2 separate regions of the Homo sapiens genome follow, and region 1 is linked to region 2. Evidence: fine-mapped expression QTL. A gene starts in region 2. The other region holds a variant in brackets. All regions are shown on one strand. Distances are between the middles of the regions.

Region 1 (2,904 bases), 160 kb after region 2:
TATTTTTAGTAGAGATGGAGTTTCAACATGTTGGCCAGGCTAGTCTCGAACTCCTGACCTCAAGTGATCCATCCACCTCAGCCTCCCAAAGTGCTGGGATTACAGGCATGAGCCACTGTGCCCAGCCTTAGCAATAGTTTTTAAAACCTAAGATTTAATAAAAATCCACATTATTTATTGATTGATTTTTTGAGATGGAGTCTTGCTCTGTTGCCTAGGCTGGAGTGCAGTGACACAATCTCTGCTCACTGTAATCTCTGCCTCCTGGGTTCAGGCGATCCTCCCACCTCAGCCAGACCATACGCATGTGCCATCACACCTGGCTAATTTTTATATTTTTTGGTAGAGATAGGTTTTCAACATGTTGGCCAGACTGGTCTTGAACTCCTGACCTCAAGTGATCCATGCGCCTCGGCCTCCCAAAGCGCTGGGATTATACATAGGCATGAGCCCCTGCGCCCAGCCCACATTAATATTTTAAGTAAAAACTCTGTATTAATGACTTATTTCAATTGTACTCTTCTCTCAGCTATCCCTCAAACTACTATATTTCCAGTTCCTTGATGTAGCTTCAGAGTTGCTCATTCCACTCCCAAAATTATCCTAAAGAAATAATTCCATTTCTTCTTCCAGAAGAACAAAAGAGGGAGGGGTGGGGAAACTAGTTGCCTGAGATGCAAATAAACAATATTTATAAAGAAAAATAATACATAAAACACTTCAGTAGAATGCAATCCTTTTCATAGAATGCAGCAAGGCATAAAAAATTAAAAATATATAATAAGACAATATTTAAGGTAAACTGAGAAACTATCATATATAATTATGCAGGTTACATAGCAACATGGAAAAATGCTTACAATGACATGGGAACAATACAAACTTGTATAATTCTAGCCATATAAAATTATGCATGCATGTGATCAAAAAGTAGGAAAAAAGAAAATCCAAGAATTTTCTAGAGTATTAGAATTCCCTTTTTAAAAAATTTAAACTTTCTATTTCACTGTTGGCTGTACAATACTTTTATAATAAATTTATCAGGAGCCAGCCAGGCGCGGTGGCTCACGCCTGTAATCCCAGCACTTTGGGGAGGTCGAGGC[G/A]GGAGATCGAGACCATCCTGGCTAACATGGTGAAACCCCATCTCTACTAAAAATACAAAAAAGTTAGCCAGGCGTGGTAGCGGGCACCTGTAGTCCCAGCTACTCAGGAGGCTGAGGCAGGAGAATGGCCTGAACCCGGGAGGCGGAGCTTGCAGTGAGCCGAGATTGCGCCACTGCACTCCAGCCTGGGCGACACAACGAGACTCCGTCTCAAAAAAAAAAAAAAATTATCAGGAGCCAAAATAACTAACTCATTACAAGTGTAAGAATTTGTACATTCGCAAGAAATGAAATAGTAAAAGGTGACACACACAGTTTGATCTTCTCGTTCAGTTGGTTGTCCTTTATAATGCTATTTAAGTTCATAAACAACCAAAAAGTAAAGATAATGAGATTCATGTTATTAAAAGTGCCTAACATTTGTGGAAAGCAAAAAGGACTTTGTTCAGCAACTGCCCATGAACTTTGGGTAAAAGCAAAACTAAATTTCTGGAGTCTATTTTGCTTTTCACCTTATTTGATCTCACTTAACATCACTCATGCCAAGTTGAGTTTTTTTCCTCTTCTTTTCCCTTCTCCTCAAGTTCATAAAGTAAAAAAAAAAAAAAAAAAAAAAAAAAAAAAAAAAAAATACATGGCAGCTCTGTTACAGTCCTCACTGTTCTCCCAGCAATACTATGTATGAAATGCGGCTTTCTGGAATGGGCCACAGAGAAAGTAAGATAAGAGAAATATCCAAATACTACCTGTCACCACGGGGATCACCAGGACTGAGTTGACTTAGGGCCAAGAGATCTGAGCTCAAGTTTTCCACATCTATAACATGGAAATAATACTACTTGCCCCAAAAGGTGATGTCACAAGAAAGTCCCTAGCACATGGTGATGCTCAAGAAATGCTCATCTCATCCTTTTTTCCCCACCTTCTGCCACACACGTGCACATGAGCTCTGCCCATTCTAAAACTACAGGGGTCCTTAAGTCTACTATTTCCCAGATGCCCACTCCAACTTTCTCTACCCTGCTCTCTGTCTTGGCAGGCTAATCATTATGAATCACATCAACAGGTCCCTATGACCTTGACCTCTGATTGGGTTTAGCCAATGCTAAGTCCCAGAAAGAGATCGGGGGAGGAAGGGAGAAGCGAGGGAGGGAATAAAGTTGAGAATTCATTCTACTTGTGGCGTATGCATCCCTCAACCAAAATTCACTGCTCCTCTCAAGGTAGCCTCTTGACACTTGATAATGACAATCTCTTCTGGCTCCTGATAACTACTTTCATCCATTTTCATCCATTTGTCTCTTTGGAGCTAGGGGTAGTAACAGCTCCACCATCACTATAAACCCTGGTTCCTGCACTATCCCTTATGGTTTTCTCTACATCCTGCCCATACCTCTTGAAGTAAACTCTCTTGGAATTATCCTAAGTTGAGAATGCCAACTTTTCCTGTTGGGACTCTGACAGATAAAGTTCTGTCTATAGAATTCCAGAATCATTTATATCTTGAATCAACACAAGGAGAATGGCAGTTCTGGGGTTTCAGATTGAGATGCACATGCAGGCAGGATCTGATAATTCTAAAATACTCCCAAGTATTGATGATTCAAAACTCCCAAGGCTAGCCTGTGTTCCCCCAATAGGCCTGAGTTGGTCCCACAGCTGAGCCATTCTCCTCAGACCCCAGAGGAATAACATCAGCTTCTAAACCCTTGGGACCCTGTGAATTGACAAGAAGTTCTAGGCACCCCCATGTTTTAAATCTTCAGTCCAGCCTCAGTCAGTGAGTCCCAGTTTTATCTCA
Region 2 (2,902 bases):
GCAGTAAGTTGTCCTGCTGTGCCTGGCAGCCGACCCACTGCCTGGCTCAACATGTCAGACAGGCTCCACCGCGACCGTGGGTGTCCTCAATTTTGGCGGTGCTGACAAGGGTAGATAGATTGCAGGGGTGAGTTTCAAGAATGGCTTCAGAAAGACAAAGAGTATGAATTATATTCCATAACCAGAAAAAGGCCTTGTGGCTGGAGAATGGAGAGTGAAGGATCACTTGTGAGAGATGAAACTGGTGAGATGGGCAGGTCATATAGAACCTGCTAGGCCAAGCAGGGAGTGTGGATTTTAGGTGCAATGGGAATTCACGGAGGGTTTTAGCCTGGATGTAGGGGATCATGATTTAATTTCATTTTAAAGATTTAAAGCATGATAAATCCAGGCAAAACCAAACTGATAGATCCAGGCAAAACCAAACAAGGTGAGTAGTCTGGGTGACAGGAGATGGGGCCTTCAGCTTGTGGGCTGAGTGACAAGGTCTTGATGGATTGGAGGTGAGGCAAAGGGAGGAATCAAAGTTAGCTGCAAGGTTTTTGACCTTCCAACTTAGAGAAGTTTAGCGCCGCGTTCTGAGAAAGTGAAGACTGTGGAAGGAATCGTTTGGGGAGGGAAGGCGAGCTGTCTAAGGGGGGGGGATGTGGAACATGCAGTGGGATGCTGGGGCCTGGAACGTAGGGGAGATGCAGGTTTGGAGTCACCGGTGCCTGTGTTGTTGGGCAAAGCCAGGGGAAAGGTCAGGTCGCCTTGGGATCTGGCCTAGCACTGAGTGCAGAGGAAGAGAAGCTTCTGAGATCGAGAGGCAGCGGCTACAGGAGGAGGAAGAAAGCAAGGCGGGGAAAACCAAAGTTCAGGAGAGCATTTGCAGGAGGGCGCTGCGGGGTAGGGTCTGAGTCGGAGCCCCGAATCGGACTCGAGTCCTGTCGCGTGGGGACGGAGCGTGCAGAGGCCCATGCGAGGGACAGACACAAAGGCCCTGGGAGCTGCAGGTCAGACCACTGGACAGCGCGGCCGCGGACCTAACGCCCCTGTAAGGGGTGCTCACGCTTGGGGGGAACTCTCCGAAAGAGAGGACCACTGAAAGCCACCCTGGCAGCAGGGGCGGAACAGACAGACGTGGGTCTGGCCGTCGCCAGAACTGCCTGCGGACCAGCCCCGCGCTGCCGGGGGGGCGGGACATGTCGGCTGTCCATCAGTGCCCGCGACCAATCCGCAGGCAGCCCCGCCCCCGCCCCTCCCGGGAGAGGGCGCGCGGAGGACCCGCCGCCGCCGGTGTGAGGCGGCCCGTCCTGGCTCCCTTGTCCGGGAAGCCCGCCCAGGTAACTGAGTTTGGCCGGGCATTCCCGGAGGACGCGCCATCCCCTCACGTCCCGTCCCGGTCGCTGCATGGGCGGTGTTCGGGACGCGGGGGCTGCGTCTGTGCGGGACCGCGGGGTAGCGGCCGCCCGTGCGAGTACGCCTGACTGACGCGCCGGCCGCCGGGCCTGCGGCCTGTGGGCGGGGCTGCCGTGCGTGACAGGGCCGCTCGTGGCCGCCGGGCTGTGTCCGGGGCCGCGTGAGAAAGCTCTGCGGGACTGAGGGCTGGGTGGGTCGACCGGGAACGGCGCGCGCTCCCGCCGCCATCGCGCCTCCGTCCCCGCCTGCGGCCTGTCTGGGGGTCGCGGGGCGCAGGCGCGGCGGGCCGACGGGCGGGGGTCCTCCCCACGGGTGCGCGGGCGCCTTTGTTCCCGGCGCCGAAGCGGGGTGGGGCCTCAGGGCAGCCCCGCCCCGCCGCGCTGAGGCCCCGCCCCGTGTCCGCCTGCAGGAGCCGCCGCCGGGTCCCGCTCGTCTGCCGCCTCAGCCTCAGCCCCAACCTCAGCCGCCGCCGTTGCGCTTGCTCCCGGGCGGTCCTGGCCTGTGCCGCCGCCGCCCCCAGCGTCGGAGCCATGGCGGGCGCCGCGTCCCCTTGCGCCAACGGCTGCGGGCCCGGCGCGCCCTCGGACGCCGAGGTGCTGCACCTCTGCCGCAGCCTCGAGGTGGGCACCGTCATGACTTTGTTCTACTCCAAGAAGTCGCAGCGACCCGAGCGGAAGACCTTCCAGGTCAAGCTGGAGACGCGCCAGATCACGTGGAGCCGGGGCGCCGACAAGATCGAGGGGGCCAGTAAGTGCGCCCACTTCCTGCCTGGGCCCGCCCCGCGCGGGGGTCGTGGGAGCCCGGCCCGACTGCTTGCACCCCGGCCGGCCGCCCCAGCGACTTGGGCAAACTTTCGGGCCCTCCCAGACTCCCTCCGGGCCCCGCCCCCGCTTCGTCTCGGGTGGTCACTGGGGGCGGGGGGCATCCGGGTCCTCGGTCACCTGACAGGACACCCCCCCTCCCCCAGCTGGGGGGAGTGTTCCAGGCGCTTTGCCCTGAGGCCTAAAAATCCTCGCGGGCTGGAGACCTGCGGTGCAGGCATCGGGCCCCCCAGACCCTGGGAGTGGTGGCGGCGTCGGCGAGGGGAGCTAAGGCAGTGGCCCCCACCCTGCACGGGAACCTGGGGCCTGACCAGACGGTCCCCGCCCACTCTTTATCCAGAAAGAGCAGTCTGTGAAACTCTCCGGGCCCCCAGGCTGGGCTCTTATTTGCAAAGGAATCTTTGGGTTCCCTAAGTAGAACTTAGGCAGATGTTGGGTAGGGCTGGTCTTGGAGCAGAGCTGGGCCTACTCATCTCCCTCTGGGGGAGAGGGAGGAAGGTGGTCTTGTTTGGTTTGGAGAAGCCTGAGAGAAGCCAGTGGCTGGAATTTTTTTTTTTTTTTTTCTGCTACTTTTGTCCCAAAGCTGGGTTTTGGAGGCCTATGTGGGTGGGCAGACACTCAATGCCAGGGCAGGGACTCCCCTTGCCCTGGGAAGCACGTTCCCAGGAGATGGGCCCCAT

Direction of the effects. Alleles are on the strand shown, and positions count from the first base shown. SD is a standard deviation of normalised expression in the study named.
For the expression in lymphoblastoid cells of the gene that starts at base 1,833 in region 2, A is the low allele of the variant in region 1 and G is the other (moderate effect, 0.49 SD a copy in TwinsUK).

What was found. PIP is the estimated chance that this variant, and not a neighbour inherited with it, causes the effect.
Region 1: its variant is fine-mapped to the expression of PLCG1 in lymphoblastoid cells (TwinsUK, PIP 0.95).

The regions. Positions count from the first base shown.
Region 1 is chr20:41,294,536-41,297,439 of GRCh38, forward strand. All of the region lies in intron 1 of ZHX3 (zinc fingers and homeoboxes 3), which reads right to left. Among named protein-coding and RNA genes, the nearest start is that of ZHX3, 22 kb to the right of the region's middle. The variant G/A (reference allele first, on the strand shown) is at 1,104.
Region 2 is chr20:41,135,711-41,138,612 of GRCh38, forward strand. PLCG1 (phospholipase C gamma 1) reads left to right here and starts at 1,833. Exons shown (of 32, transcript NM_002660.3): 1 at 1,833-2,148. The coding sequence starts at 1,932. It overlaps LOC124904903 (translation initiation factor IF-2-like), which reads right to left and starts at 1,803. Exons shown (of 2, transcript XM_047440629.1): 1 at 1-1,803. The coding sequence starts at 1,629. The coding sequence ends at 1,048. PLCG1-AS1 (PLCG1 antisense RNA 1) reads right to left here and starts at 2,290. Exons shown (of 7, transcript NR_109889.1): 1 at 2,004-2,290; 2 at 1-101. RefSeq lists enhancers at 348-1,132, 1,917-2,701, 2,623-2,722, 2,871-2,902 and silencers at 1,103-2,092, 2,213-2,472.